Linked DNA regions of Homo sapiens: region 2 is linked to region 1. The links come from fine-mapping of genetic effects on gene expression. Tissue or cell type: atrial appendage. Region 1 holds a variant in brackets; the other region holds the start of a gene. All regions are shown on one strand. Distances are between the middles of the regions.

Evidence for each region. PIP is the estimated chance that this variant, and not a neighbour inherited with it, causes the effect.
Region 2: it holds the start of DCTN4, and the variant in region 1 is fine-mapped to the expression of DCTN4 in atrial appendage (GTEx, PIP 0.99).

What each region holds. Positions count from the first base shown.
Region 1 is chr5:150,382,842-150,390,946 of GRCh38, reverse strand. It overlaps TCOF1 (treacle ribosome biogenesis factor 1), which reads right to left. Exons shown (of 27, transcript NM_001371623.1): 18 at 2,859-3,045; 19 at 924-1,060. Among named protein-coding and RNA genes, the nearest start is that of CD74, 26 kb to the left of the region's middle. The variant G/A (reference allele first, on the strand shown) is at 3,888.
Region 2 is chr5:150,754,183-150,762,287 of GRCh38, reverse strand. DCTN4 (dynactin subunit 4) reads left to right here and starts at 3,271. Exons shown (of 13, transcript NM_016221.4): 1 at 3,271-3,429; 2 at 5,801-5,871. The coding sequence starts at 3,295. RefSeq lists enhancers at 3,196-3,495, 3,926-3,995.

The DNA of each region.
Region 1 (8,105 bases):
ATTGTTTCCTCTCCTACCAGCTGGTGAATACTTTTTATTTATATGTGGGTTTCCTTGTTTAATCGCTGCCCCTCACCACTCCCTGACTGGCCTGGGAATTCCTTGTCCCTGTCTTGGTTCCTGCAGTATCCCTAGGGCCTGGCAGGAACCGATGCTCATGGATGCAGTGACCACAGCCTGACTTCCCATCCGACACCCATGTTCCCAGAAGTTTTTGACCTGGAGCTTGTGATGAGCCCAGGGAGTGGGTGGCACACCAGCCCCACCGCCCCCCAACACCCCCTTAGCCCACCCCTCAGGAAGAGAGGTCAGAGTGTGTCATGGACTTCATCCTCTCAGTGGGATGGGAAACCAGACTGATATGGCCCAAAGAGCAATGAACTGGGTCTCAGAAGACCCGGGTTCCGGCCTTGCTGAATGCTGGTCACATCGCAGCCCTTGGGGTGGGGATGTGTGCTAAGTTTTATGATCTAAACAATGCACCAGCCATTAACCCTAAAATGCCCAGCTTTTAGATTCAGGCAAGGACCAAATAAAAATGCACTGAAGATGGTAAAGGCTTGGAAGAATGCTGAAGTCACTATTACAAACACCAAAAAAGGGCAACTTTTGTTCATGGCATTTCAAAACTGGAAGAAAAAAAATCAAAAGCCCCACTACGCTGGAAAATCTCATGAGGGACTCGAGTGCTGCAGGGCTTGCTTGGCCAGGAGGCTGTGTCCCCAGATTACTCTTCCTCATAACTCAAAGGTGATTTGGGGGGTTGTAGCTAGGAGGCCAGAAAGCCTCTGGCTGTGAGGCCACGACCTCTGGAGTGTGGGCGTGACAGCAATTGCAGGCCATCCCATCAGCACATGTGGGTAAGTATGGAAGTAGGGCCCCACCCCACTGGCCTGCATTACCCTCCCTTGCCCACCAGGTACCTGAGTGGCTGGTCCCTCCTGTTTCTTGCCATCTGATATCCGACTGGACTCCTTGCTGCTGCTGGCCCCAGCCATGCTGGCTTTGGGGGCTATTCTTGGGTGGGCAGTGGGCATGGTCACCACATTGGTTCTGATGCCTGAAATGGAGCGAGATGGGGGCACATCAGGGCACAAAAGCCCCATCGCCTCCTCAGCAGCGGCAATAACCCAATTTACCGGCCTGTGCTGGTGATCTAGAGCTGTGCTCAGGGCTTACAGAGGTAGAAGCTTGTTTACTTCCCTCTCCAAGCCTCCCAGGCAGGAGATGTCATTATGTCATTTGACAAGGCTCAGGGAGCTCAAATGGCTGCTCTGGGGGTGACCCCAGGCTTCCTCATCCCCTCCCCTCCCAACTGGTCGGGCTGCCACTCCTGAGCAATGGGCCAGAGCACCGGCACCAAACGACTCTCCTTGCAGTTAAAATCGTCTCTCCTAAGAGTCCCCGTGGTTATCTGCAGAGGCCTGGTTACATGCATGTTCTTCAAAGCACTGTTTATAACAGCCAACTCCCTCACCCCTCCACCCTGAAACAAAACCCTCTGCTTCCTCCAACATGGTGCTGGCTACACACACTGTAGCATGTCCACCCAAGGGATTTCTCTGTAGCCATTAGGAATTGTGCTGCAAATATGTAAAGATGAAAAAAACCCGATGTCATAAAATATCCAGTGAAGGTTACTGAACATTAGATACAGTATGGTCTTGCTTTAAAAACACACGTATATTTTAGGTTTTTATAAAGTTAGCATTTGTCAAATGTTAACAGTAATTATTTGGGGCAGAATTACAGGTGATATAGTTTCTTATGTGCTAATCTGTATTTTTATTAAAAAAATATACACACACATACACACATATATGTATAAGTATATGTATATGTACATATGTATGTAGGTAGGTAGATAGGTAGAGATAGGGCTCTCACTATGTTGCCCAGGCTGGTCTTGAACTCCTGGGCTCAAGCGATCTTCCTACCTTGGCCTTCTAAAGTGCTGGGATTACAGGTGCGAACCACCATGCCCAGCAGTAATCTCTATTTTGCCTGCTTTCTGTTTTTTTGAGACAGTCTCACTGTCGCCCAGGCTGGAGTGCTGTGGCACATCTCAGATCACTGCAACTTCTGCCTCCTGGGTTCAAGCGATTCTCGTGGCTTACCCTCTCAAGTACCTGGGATTACAGGCGCCCGCCAGGCTAATTTTTTGTATTTTTAGTAGAGACGGGGTTTCGCCATGTTACCCAGGCTGGTCTTGAACTCCTGATCTCAGGTGATCTGCCTGCCTCAGCCTCCCAAAGAGCTAGGATTATAGGCGTGAGCCACTGCACCCGTCTGCATTTTTAAATTGTCCTATCAGGATCAGGTATTATTGCTTGTAAAACTGTTACAATAACTGTAATAGTAACATTAACCCTTTTCCTGTTGTCATTGGTAGAATCACAGATTCTCAGAAGTCAAAGAAACCTCAGATTGGTCCTGTCTCTCTGATAGATGAAATCTATCCCTGTGATGTCTCTGGCTTAGGGATTGCCTAACCTACTTTACATGCCACCAAGGACGGGAAGCTCACTACCACCCTGACCACTTGTTCCACAGGCAGTCAACTGATACAGAATTCTTTCTTAGACTATGTAGGAACCTGGTCCCTGCAGCTTCTAGCCACTGGTCTGGGCTCCATGACTGGGGCTGCCACAAAAAAGCTCTGGCAACTATTCCCCCAGAACTGCAGGTCTGAGCCAGGCCCTAATCAGAATGGCTAATGCAGGGCCCAGAGACCTGACCCCAAGCCCCTCCCGACCAACACCTTGCTATGTGACTCAGCCAGTGTCCTGTCCCTTCTGGGCCTCAATGTGGGGCAGTGCTGGCAGCCCCTCCCACCACTGCATAAGGGCTGCGCTCACCAGGAGTCAAGCACTGTGTAGCGGGGATCACGTCCTCATCCTCGCTCTCGGAGGAGGAGCTCCTGGCTGTGCTCTCCGAGGCTCGGGCCTTCCTCGGGGTGCTTGCAGCCTGGGCTTGTGCGGGTGTAGCAGCTGGGCCAGCTGGACTACGATTAGGGTCGACAAAAATCAGAGGGGGTTTAATCACCTTGAAAAACAAAAACAAAACACCCCCCCAGTGATTAAAGGCTTGGCCAGGGAAAGGAGGTGATGGGGTTAGGGAGTGTTTTACAAGGCAAAGGGTCCACTGAGCTCAGGGGCAGCTGGGCACAGAAGCCATTCCAGCTGCCCAGGGTGCCCCCTCCCACCCCACACATCTGCTAAGACCCAGCACAGCACTTCACAACTCCCAGAGCCCACCTGACCCTCACAGTGAAGCCCTACATTCAGCAGGATCAGCTCCCTTATACAAAGTGGGAAAACCACAAGCCCAGAGGGAAAGGGAGCGACCCAAGGCTGCTGTCCCTACTGGAAGCAAAGCCACGGCCAGAATGTCCAATTCTGCCTTCTTTCCCCGGCTGGCTTCAGAAACAGTTACTTGCTGAATGCAGGGAGTGGTCTAAGCAGTTTTCCAAGGCTGCCTGGTTGGAATATGCAATTCACCTGGGGAGGTATTTACAGTCTAGTTGCCCCAACCCCAGAGGTTCTGATGCAGCCCTCCTGATACATGGCCCAGGATGAAACTCCCCAGCTATACCAATTCAGTTTCTTCAACAAAAAAATGCACAAGAGAAACAAGGGTTGGGTGAGTGGGTGAGAACCAACAGATTAAGACTTAGAGGATTAATAACTCAATGCCGTACGTGGCCTTTAACTGAACTCCATGAGACAATCAGGGAAATAGGGACACTGACTGGGTAGATCAACTTATTAGGTGTGACACTGTATCGTAGTTGTGCTTAAAAAGGTCCTTATAACTGAGAGCTGCATACTGAAATCCTGGTGGATGAGCTGACATGTCTGAGACTGGCTGCAAAGTAATCCAGGGGC[G/A]TTGGGGAACTGAGTGGAGGGTTTGCGTGAAACGAGCCTGCTCAGGAGTTCCTAACTGTTGAGGCTGGGGATGGTACGTGGGGGTTCTTTACATTATCTATCTTTGGGTATGCTTTAAATTTTCCAAGGAAACAATAAAAGAAAAAGCAAACAAGCAACAGCAGCTCCCTGGTATTCTGCAGGCCAGTCTGGTTTTGAACTGCACCATCCCTGAACATGTTCACCGCACACGAGGGCATCTCCAGGCCCATTTCCTTCCTGAACCTCCAGCTAACGAGAACACACATGGTTGTGAGCCAGGGAGCTGGTCAGGTCTACTTTCCATTCCCCAAATGTCAGATCTGGTTTGAGCTCTGCTCCCTCTCTGGCCAGTGAAGAGCTGGAGGGCAGGAAGAGGGAGCTGCCTGAGGCTAAGAGAGGAGTGGAATCAGGTCCAGACTGGTCTCTGTTTCACCATCCTGTTTACCCCCTGAGCCTGACTTAGCACACCTGGCTCCTCAGGGTGCTAAGGTGCTGTGGAGAGGCATAAAGTAAAAAGTAAAACAGAAAGGTGCCTGCCTGAGGGTGGAAGCTTCTCTGGGCTTAGGCCTTTCCTACCCCTGCCAAATAGCCTCCCCCGCGGCTGCTCCGATCTGCCACTTCCAGAGCCTTCCTTCCCACGATATAAAAAAGAGAAGGATGGAAAGTGGGAGAAGGCTTACAGTTGAGGGAGGGGGGATCTATATATATGTGAAGACAGGAACAGATTGTCGGGGACGAAGAGAAGCAACGAACCCACTGAGGCAAACAATAGCGTCTTGGGATGTTAAAAGCAGCTCAGCAGCAAAAGCCTCCTGTTAGTTCCACCTGCCCACGCCACCCCACTGGGCCTCTGGGCCGTAGGAGGGAGGTGGTGCAGGGGGCTTGGCTGTGGGGGGTTGGGGCGGGGCATTAGCCTGTAGAGTTCATAAAGGTGGGCAGTGAAGCTTGCCCAGGGTATAGGAGAAGACCTGCTTCTCATTACGCCTCTCTCATGACTTCACTGTGTGGTCAAGCCCCTCAACTTTCTGATCCTCAGTTTCCCGTTTAATGAAACGGCTAGTAGTTATCCCAGCCTGGGCTCATTCACTGGAGGGGTTCCAATGCACTGTGGAAACTGGAAAGCACAGTATACACAGGAATGTAGTTCTGGGGTCAGTTAGAAAAAAAACTGATGGGAGTGAAGCAGCAAAACCAGCACTGGCCTGAACATTTGGTTGTACCTCCCTATAGGTGCTGGGCAGTAAGGACCCAGAGGGAACCCTGGGATACCCCTCCTACCTGTAGGTCTGATGCCTGCAGAACCAAACCTAGGGGCTTTCTGGACAGTGCTCACCCCATCCTGTCAAAGCTGAGCTCATTCTAACTGTGCCTTCATTCCAGCAAGTCACAGAGTGGGGAGAGGGGGCTGATGGCCTAGGCTGCGGACCCTGGCAAGGGACATGACCACAAAGGCAACAAACACTCCAAGAACCTCTCTCAGAATTGCCTGAGGCTGCTTAACAGATCTAGGCCAGCCCCACTCCAGGGGACTGAGAAATTCTACTCTCTGGGGATGTGGCCTGGAGCCTCAAGGTCCACCCCACCAACCCAGGAAGTCTCATCCCAGAGATTGAGATGAATGAGGCTCAGAGAAGGCAAGTGGCCTCACCCAGGGCAACCAGCAAACTGGTGCCAGAGCCAGGATTAGAAGTTAGTTCTCCAGGCACCAGACTGGAGCTCCTTCTAGAACCAATTATGCTAGGCCTCAATGTAACACCAGAATTTAGTTTCTTACAGGTTTCCTTTTTCTTTGATTCAACCTAAAACTTTGAGAGCAGGGCCTACGTCTTTGACAAACTAATAGAAGAAGTTGGCCTTAAAAAATATTACCGACAAGTGAAACTGCATATATTTGTGGTATATAACATGATGTTTTGATACACATATACATTGTGGAATAGCTAAATTAAGTTATTTAACATATGTATCACCTACTTGTTTTTAAATCTGGAAGCTGTCCTGACCCCAGCACAGACTCTGGCCTGAGGTCTACTCTGCACAACAGGGCGGAGGCACAGTGAGGGGTCTAGGAATGGAGCCAAGGTATCTATCCCTGCCTCCCAGCCTGGGACTCTGCCCACCACCCTGGCCTCAATCCCTTTCCCCACTGATGGGCTAATAAAATCAGACTGAAACTTGTCAATAGAGAGGTGCTCAATAAATGTACAATAATGAAAATAATCATAATTAGTGAGCTGGGGATTAGGAACTAAAAATCTCTCAATCAGGAAGAGGCTGCAGCTTCCCCGGGCTATGCCCGTCTTCCCCGAATCCTCCTGGGGGAATGTACAAACCGCTGACTTCTTTTCTGCTTTTTAAATAGACTCCAGAATCTTCAGGACTAACATACCAATTAAATGGTTCAGTTTAAGCAGGATGTTCATTTTAATTGTGTTAGTCCACCCCCACAGAGAAAGGGGGAGCGGTCCCCTCCCTCCCAGTTGTTTAGATCCCTCAGAGAGGCAGGTGGCCTCGTAAAGGCTCCACACAGAGCCAGAGGGCAATGCCCAAGCCCAGGAGAGGAGAGTGTCGGGGCAGCACCAGGCAACGGGTCAGAATGTGAATGGCCTGTGCTCAAACACCAGGTCTGTCCACTTGTCATCAGCCATGTGATGCTGGGACAGGTCCCTCAACTTCTCTGAGCCTCACTCCCAGTTCCTTAAAATGCAAACAACAAAGGGAGCCACCCTCATAGGGCTGTTGTGGAGATTAAACAGAAAAATGAGAATACAGGGAGTTACCGATGTTGGTGGTGGTTGTTCTTTACTTTTGTAATCTGTGCCATTGGAAAGTGAGAGGCAGTGAGCACCCTATTGCTGGAGGTGTGCAAACAGCATCTGACCTTACTGATGAATTGATAACAATGTGGTATGTGATATTCAAGGGGAGGTGGTTCATGAGACCGCTCTGGTCTGGAGGTTGCAGAACTCCAGGATCTGTGGTTAGGCCCTGGGACAGGGGAGCTGGTGCTCTGAGGTGCCTGGCAGAAGCTTCTGGGAGCTTGGGGCTAGAGGAGGACAAAGGGTAATGCTGTCTGATGGAAGGGCCAGGGTTCACACAGAAGCTTGGACCACACCAGCATGGCTGACTTGGGCCTCTGGAGTACAGGAAGATAAGGTGGGCCTGGTCCCACCCTTGGAGGTGTAGCCTGAGCAGGACTGTGGCTTAAGCTCTGGGTGCAGTGGAGCACATGAAGGTATGCCACAGGTGCTTGAGAGAGGGTCCTGGGCAGAGCTCATGGGATTCAAGAAGACTCCTGGTCCTAAACAGAAAACAGAGAGATACAGGGAGCCAGGGGACCAGCGTTTGGACCTTTCCTCAGCCTCTTATGAATCATGAGAATTTGGGGAAACTGCTTCAACTCTAAGGCTTGATTCCCAATCTGTCAAATGGGGCAACACTCCCTGCCCTTCTCACAGTTAACAGGCACCCTTTCTTAGGCAGGGGACTGTGGCAAGTACCTTGTGTGCTGGCACCAGTGCACAGAGGCAGGAGAGAGGTGCCAGTACTGTCCCCATTTTATGGCTGAAACATTGAGCCTCACACAGGGGAAAAGGCATCTGCCCAGGACCATGGGGCTGTTGGGTGGAAGAGCTGGGCTTCGCCCCAACACCACCTGGCTCTGAAGCCTGTATGTTTAACTGTGTACTGCTGCCTGCCTCACAGGGCTCAGATGAATGTCACAATAGAGGAAAGAGCTCTGGAAGCTGTGAGGTGCTGTTTAAATATGGCGAGATTTTCCCTATGGGCAAGATCTGCCCTCTCCTGCAAGGCCTGCCAGCCCAGCTCTGATCCTGCAGCATCTGCAGAGAGAAGGCATGGCGCACCTGGGTCAGTGGCAGCTCTTCCTCACTGCTCTCCGAGGACCCCTCCGTGTTCCTCTCTGGGGGTGCTGGGGCCAGGGTCTTGCTTCTGGCAGGTTTGGAGTTACTGTCCTTCTGAGGGGACAAGACCTGGATAAGCACGTGGTCGGGGAGTGGGGCATTTGCTGAGGGGGAAACAGCCAGTAGGCAATGACCCTCAGGCACTCTGGTTTCCAGGGGAGGCAGCGTGGCCCCTTCCTGCACATGCACAGGGATACCTGCTGGCCTGACCTGCCCCACAGCCACTGGAAACATGCTTCCACCCTGCTAGCTCCTTCCAGAGCTGACTCCGAAC
Region 2 (8,105 bases), 370 kb before region 1:
CGTGGTGGCTCATGCCTATAATCCCAGCACTTTGCGGGGCTGAGGAGGGCAGATCATGAGGTCAGGAGATCCAGACCATCTTGGCTAACACGGTGAAAACCCATCTCTACTAAAAATACAAAAAAATTAGCCGGCCGTGGTGGCGGGCACCTGTAGTCCCAGCTACTTGGGAGGCTGAGGCAGGAGAATGGCATGAACCCAGGAGGCGGAGCTTGCAGTGAGCTGAGATTGTGCCACTGCACTCCAGCCTGGGCGATAGAGTGAGACTCCGTCTCAAAAAAAAAAAAAAAAAGGAAAGAAAAATTCAAAGTTCAGTTCAATTCAAAAGCAAAAACAATTCAAAAGATTTCCCAGAATAAAGGCAGGCCAGCAGTCTTTTGCCATGTTTACACTTGGGAAATTAGCTTTAGCCCTGCCACCACCACATTTCCTGGGCAGTAAGGGCCCCCACAGGGGCTAGCATGGATATTGATGAAACAGGGACTTCTTTTTTCTTCCTCCTCTATTCACTTACTATGACTTTTAGATTAGCCTGTAAATAGATTCAACACAGGAAACCCTATAATTAATATAGTTTTCAAGTAGGAAAGCAAAAGTGGGGAAGGCAGCCAGGGCAGGTGGCCAGCATTGGTGAGAGCAGTTCCCCAGATTCCTAAGCTGTAGAAAACCCTAAGTCTTTGAGGTCAGAGCCCAGATTCGGTCCCCTTCACAAGACCTCATTTGACCAAAGTCTGACTAACTTCCAGTTTTTTCCATTATTATTGTGGATTTACTCTGAAGGACTCTTTATAAAAATGAAAACCACTTTGGGTTTTTCATACTTGGGATATTTAGGGAGCATTTCTTCCATGTGCTTAGTACTTCATACCTTACAAAATGCTTTCACAGCCTGGATGATTTTTTATTTTCACCAAGGCAGGGATTATTCTTCTCATTCTATGTGTCTTGAAACAAGACTCTGAGGTGTAAATGTCTTTTTCAAGATCACATAGCTAGAAAGTGCCAAAAGTATCCACTCAAATTTGATAATATGCCAGGTGGGCAAAACAGTGGGAAATGGATAGCTCATACACTTATAGTGAGAGTGTAAATTGGCCTAGAATTTCACAAGGGCTTATTGCCAGTATTTATTAAATGTGGATATCCTTTGATCTGCCAGTTCAACTTTAGGGTCTCTGTATTAGCCTGAGTTCCCCCTAGAAAGCAGAGCTCAAAATGAGATTCTGCAGGCAGGAAGCCAGGATTGAGAAGTGAATGAGGGTGAGTCCAGGGCTGGGTAGAGTGAAAAAGCAACACAAGGCTACATTATCAAGCTGGTCACCATTGTGCATAACTAGGACTCGATCCTGCTAGAACCCTGAGCCTTTGAGGATGGAAAGTATCTCATTTATCGCTAGTTCCCTCCCCAGTACCTGGCATGTAGCAGGGACAAGATAATTGGCCACTTAATTATTTAAAATCAGTGCTCTAAAAAGTGTCTGTTTTATGTGGATTCAGCTCAAGTCTCCAGCCTTTCTGTACCTGCAGGCTCTGGGACTTCATTTTAACAGCATAGTCCAGAAAAGGGAATTTAAACTCAGTAGAGACTAGTTTATAAACCAGAAAACCAACGAATTCATTAACCTAAAGAAATAATTGCAAATGAGTTGGCTAGTAATATATTCTCTCCTAGGAGCAGATGTCACCTATGAAACTAAATTAGTGCCAGGCTATTGCTTGGTGAACAAGTAATGACTTTTAGGCTCAATTGGTAAAGCGTGACATAAATTGTGAGATTAGCACTGTATAAGCTGAAAAGGTCTATATAAATGTAAGGTATTATTAACATCACCATATTAGAAAATATGCTGGAGGGAGTATACATAGGGGTTATACCTGCAAGCACTAGAGTCAGAGAGAAAAGGGTTCTACCTCCATCTATGAAACCTTATAGAGGAGTCACTGCACTTCCCTGTGCCTCAGTTTCCTGCTCTGTAAAATAGAAATAATGATAGCCACATGCTTTTTGGAGCTGTTGTAAGAATTAAATTAGACAATGTATGTAAAGTTTTGACACAGTGTGCTGCACTTAATAAGTGCTCAATAAATGTTTGCTAATAGTATTCAGTTCCCTTTCTTCTCAATCACCAACTCTAACGTCAGACAGGTAATAATACAACACTACTACAATTATAAAAATGTAGACCTGGTGGCAGGCAACAGAGGCTCCAGTTTCTGCTAGGCAGTTCTAGGTGGTCATTTTACATACTGGGGAGTCCCAGTTAGAGAAAGGGAGTCAGGCTAGTGGGACCAAGGGATAGCAAGAAGAGCAGATGCACTCTAAGTCTGCCTTTCTTCATGGTGCAGGACACGTAGCCCTCCTGTGCAAATAACTCACAATCTTCCTGCACTCAGCTATCACGAGACACATGCAAGTTAGCTCCCTGTAACCTTGGAGTTCTCGGTACTGCACAGCACTCTGCAGCCCAAGAACCATCGGATAAAATCTCCAGCAAGCCTTTGTTTCCTTGAAGTCAGCTCCTCTCTGGCTGGTCTGCCCATTGCAACCTTTCAACGTATTTTCATACCTTCTCTAATAAATCTGCATTTCTTTACCTAAAACTGTTGATAAATTATTTTCCCACCCATGTAATACCAGTCTCACGTAGTCGCTGCTCACCCAAGAGGCAGACCTGAGCCTTAGTTTACACATTAGAAAAACGTAGACGCCTACCAACATTGTTCATTCATTGATTTCATTCCCTCCTTTTCATACTTATTGAAGGTCCACAATACAGACTTAGACCTAACGCTAACTATGTACTCAAAAACCTGCGTTTCAAATGAGATAATGTATGTGAAAGTTCCCAAAGGCCATTGGCAAGACTCAGAAGACAGTGCTGGTGTGACTCCTGTCTTGCAGTCCCCACGGAGCCCTGTCCCTTTGAGACCTTCCATTTGTCTCCTGGATGCTCGCCTGTTAAGTGGGGCAGAGGAGGCCGTCGTAAATAAGACAAAAGATCAGGCTTCCATTCTGGAAGAAAAGAATAAAAGGAGCTCACTGAGTCCAGACCTAATGGCAGTAAGGGCAGTGGACGCTCACAAAAGCGCTGGGGGACGGGCCCAGAGTTGGGGAGAAAACAGGGATCCCAGCTGCGCACGCGCGCTCTGGTTTTCGACGGGCGCAGAGCCGGACGAGGTGGGAAACCTAACGTCAAAGTCTACGTAGGAAGTCGTAGGGAAGGCAGCGAGGAAGACGCTGGCTCTCGGGTCACGTGATGCGCCGGGAGCGTCATCGCCTCCTCCCTCCCCAAGATGGCGTCCTTGCTGCAGTCGGACCGGGTTCTCTATCTAGTCCAGGGAGAAAAGAAGGTTCGGGCCCCGCTCTCGCAACTCTACTTCTGCCGCTATTGTAGCGAACTGCGGTCGCTGGAATGTGTGTCTCACGAGGTAACAGAGTCGCCCTATAGCGAGTATGTGGGGTGGGGGGGGCGCGGCGTTCATGCTAGTCACTGCCACCGGAAGGCTGGAGCTATTTTCCTTCCTTACTGATTGGTTATGTCTTCCGTCACTCGGGTTTGCCTGCGATTTAATTTGCTTCTAATCTGTCACTTGGAAAGGAGGAGCAGCCTCGGGTGGGACTGAGCGGATCTTCTGGTTCTAGAGCGGCCTCTGATTGGACAAACTTGACTTAGGGACCGTGTCTGTCTGCGATGGGGCTTGGTAATTGGGTGGACTACGGAGAAAGGTCTGGGGGTGCTTAGTTCAGGCCACTTAAGGGGCGAAAAACTGCCTTTCCAGGATTTATTGCGAGGATGGAGGGAGGCGCAGGCGTTCTCATTCATAGTTCTCCCATCCTGAAAGTTCTGTTCCTCTTTTGTCCAGAAACTGGGCCCTCGTCAGACTGCCTTGCCCTGTTCCTGACTCAGGCCAAGGCCTGCAGCCGGGAAGAGGTTGGGGCGGCGTGAGTTATGTGAAAAGCGCTCAGAATACAGTATGTCATGTAAGAAGCTGAAAGTGTATTTATGGAGCTAGAGGACAATGCTGTCCTTCCCTGGCACAAGTGGGCGTCCGAAGTTGGATTTTTCAAAAAGAAGACCCCGGCCAGTAAAAAGTCACCAAATAACAAAACCCCAAAACTTCTGCAGCGCTTGGCACATCTTGTTTATTCAGTAAGCTTTAGGGATTAAAAGGCGAGTAAGACATAAAATGCGCTGTTTAATAAGCCATAGTCTTAGTGAAGAAAAAGCTGATAGTAGTAATAGTTGCTGCTTATTCGATACTTGCTATATGTCATGTGCTTTATGTAATCTTCAAACCAATTTAAGTGGATACTTTTTTTAAAAAATTTTTTTTACAGGTAAAGAAACAGATACAGAGTGTTCGCTGTAAGTCACACAGCCAGTAATTTGGGGGTGGGAAGGAGGACCTGGATTTGAATCTAAACAGCCTAACTCAGAGTGTTTTTTACTGAAGATCCCGGGACTGTTAAAATAAATGCATATGAAAACACATACTATAAGCCATTTTATGTGTTATTAATAACTTATTTTATTGAAGATACTTTTCATAATAGGAATAGTCAAGAAAAGCAATTAAATAATACAAGAAAAATCGTATATATTAAAAATATGGCATCGATTTTTCTTCTCATCTCCATTAGCACTTTCCTTATGTGTATCTCCTTGATGATTCCCTATTCCAGCTCCACCTCCAGAATTTATTGGATCATATTCTCCTGTGGTGAATAGAGTGCTCAGTCTCCATGATCTGTCTCTAAGACTCTCTTCAATTAGGACATCCAGTCTGTGACAGCATCTTTTACAGCCTGATGTGTACCTGTGATATGGAGGCCATTAGAGTTTAGGGAAAGATGAAGCTCTGAGGGCTGGGGCAGGCAGTGAAGTTCTAATGGAGAATCTGGGTCTGGAGCTGCACATGAACGGACAAGCAGAATTTGGAAAGGGGGCAAAAAGGAATGACTTGTATTTTGCCTTTTTTGATGAGTCAGTGCAGAGGTTAGTTAGCAATATTGTATTTTATGTTCCTGGAGATTATTTGAGCAACAACTTTATTAATCTTTTCAAATTGACCTGTTTATAGCAGATGATGAAAAAAGCCAGTTTCTATCATAGTATTTATGTTCCAGTGATTGTCTTTTCATTTGCAGGTGACTAGAGTTCTATAATTGTCAAATAGGACCTACATTAAAGAAAATAATTATTCAGACTTTTAAAAAATAAAATGAACTTAAATTTTAGACTCCAGTTTTTTAAGTACAATAAGACTGTCCCATTAATTTGTTTAAAAATCTCTAATTGGTTGGCCATAGCTGACTATGTAAATAAATATTTATGCTTGCCTTCAGTCAACCTGTATTACTTCAATAATGAGAAATCTTTAAAAAAATGTCCTTCAAAACCTAAAAGTATGGTCAAGTTTTATAGTCATATAAAGCTAGCCTAGACAGGAGGATATTTTATCACAATGTTACAAATTGGATTATTTTATTAATCTCTTTATTAATCATAGAATTCTATGGAGTTCAACTGGAAATTGTAGATTGTTAAATAAACAACTTTTAACACATAAAACCCTGATGATGGAATAGGAAAGATCAGAAAAATAGAAGGATTTTTTAAATCCGGAAGAAGAAGAAAAAAAAAAAACAGGTGACTGAAGAAGAATAAACCCTAAGCAGAAAACAGTCTACTTTCTGCTACAGTATAACATATTTTAAAATTCACTATTTGACAAGACATATACACAAGTTAAACTGAGTTCTCCTCTGGTTTTTTTTTTCTTTCTTGTTTCCTCCTAGGTGGACTCCCATTATTGTCCCAGTTGTTTAGAAAATATGCCATCGGCTGAAGCCAAACTAAAAAAGAATAGGTAAGACCTGGACTGATTTTTTTTTTCTTCCTATTTTCCTTGACTGTTCTCTAAAATAGCTAGTTAAAAAGACACATGGGCCAGGCATGGTGGCTCACGCCTGTAATCCCAGCACTTTGGGAGGCGGAGGCAGGGATCACGAGGTCAAGAGGTTGATACCATCCTGGCTAACATGGCGAAACCCCATCTCTACTAAAAATACAAAAAATTAGCTAGGTGTGGTGGCACGCGCCTGTAGTCCCAGCTACTTGGGAGGCTGAGGCAGATGAATTGCTTGAACCTGGGAGGCAGACATTGCAGTGAGCCAAGATTGTGCCACTGCACTCCAGCCTGGGCAACAGAGCAAGTCTTTGTCTCAAAAAAAAAAAAAAAAAAAAGACACATGAAATTAACTTTTTTAACCAGCTCTTTTTCATTTTTAAGCATCACCATTGCCAAAGATGAAATCCCCTTTGATTTTTGAAATAGATTTTCTACTTTAGAACAGTTTTGTACTTCAGAATTATGGTGAAGATAGTATGGAGAGTTCCCATTTACCTCACATCCAGTCTCCCCTATTGTTAACTTTTTACATTAGTGTGGTATATTTGTTACAATTAATGAACCAATACACTACATTTTATTCAGATTTCCTTAGTTTTTCTGTGGTCTCCTTTTTTTCCAGGATTCTTTTCAGGATATCACATTATATTTATAGTTATGTCTCTAGACTCCTCTTGGGTGTGGTGTGATAGGAGAATCTTAAAATTTCCTTGGTTTTGATGACCTCAAAAGTATTGAGGAGTACTGGTGAGGTATTTTATAGAATGTCATTTCATTAGGATTTGCATGATGTTTTTTTCTCATCAGACTAGGGGAATGTATTTTGCGGAGGAGAACCACAGAGGTAAAGTGCCATCTTTGATTACATCATATCAAGGGTAAATACTTATGACTTGTCACTGTTGGTGTTAACCTTGATTATCTGGCTTGAGCTAGTGTTTGTCAGGTTTCTCCACTGTAAAGTTACTGCTTTTCCTTCTTTTTTTGTACTCTACTTTTTGGAAGGAAAATTACTGTCACAGCCCATAAAGACTAGAGAATTATGCTCCCCTGTCCTTGAGGACTATCTGCATAAATTATTTGGATTTGGAATTCTTTTGCATGGAAGATCTGTCTCTTCTCCTCTTGTTTATTTGTTTTTTAAATCACTTACTTATAGGACAGTGGGATTATGAATATTCATTTTATATTTTGGCTTGTAATCCAATACTACTTTATTTATTTTGCTCAAATTATTTCAGCTTTGGCCATTGGGAGCTCTTTCAGTTGACTCCTAGATCCCTTTGACATACCCCCATCATTAGGAGCAGGAGAGAGTTCTCTGTTCATTACTTTGATCATTTTCTTACCAGTACTACAAGATACTCCAGACTCATCTTGTGTGTATGTTTTGTGTGTATTTTTTTTTTTTTGAGACAGGGTCTCACTTTGGCGCCTAGGTTGAAGTGCAGTGGTGCAATCTTGGCTCACTGCAACCTCAACCTCCCAGGCTCAAGCAGTCCTTCCACCTCAGCCTCCTGAGTAGCTGAGACTAGGCACATGCTACCACACCTGGATAATTTTTGTATTTTTTTGGAGAGATAGGCTTTTGCCATGTTGCCCAGGCTGGTCTTGAACTCCTGGCTCAAGCACTTCACCTGCCTTGGCCCAAAGTGCTGGGATTACAAGCGTGAGCTGCTGTGCCCAGCCTCATCTTGTATATTTTCTGTCTCAGTCTTAGAGTTGTTTCTCCAAGGAGCCTTGGTTCACTTTATTGGAGAATAGTCTTAGAAACCAAGATATGGCTGCTAGGCTTGCTCATTGCTACTGGATGGTGTTTAGTTTTTAGCTTGAAGTGAAAGTCCTTTTGCTGTTAGTCATACCCCCATACCTTTATGGATGTGAACCACTATTATTTGTCTTTCCTGCCCTGAGAAGTAACCCCTGATAACCAGATACTGTTTTGTATACTTTCCACAAATTAATTTTTATCATTTAATCCTCAAAGCTTCCTTGTAAGGTGAGTACTATTATTATCTTCTTTTGATAGTATCCAGATGGCAGACTATAACAGATAATGCAAGTTATATTATAGAACAGAACTTCAAGCAGGTACAGGACTGCAGGTGAAATCTTGATAATCTGTGCTGGTGGGAGAGTTAAAAGCAAGAAGACATAGGGACCTCCTAAAGGAGAAATGTTGGCTGAGCACT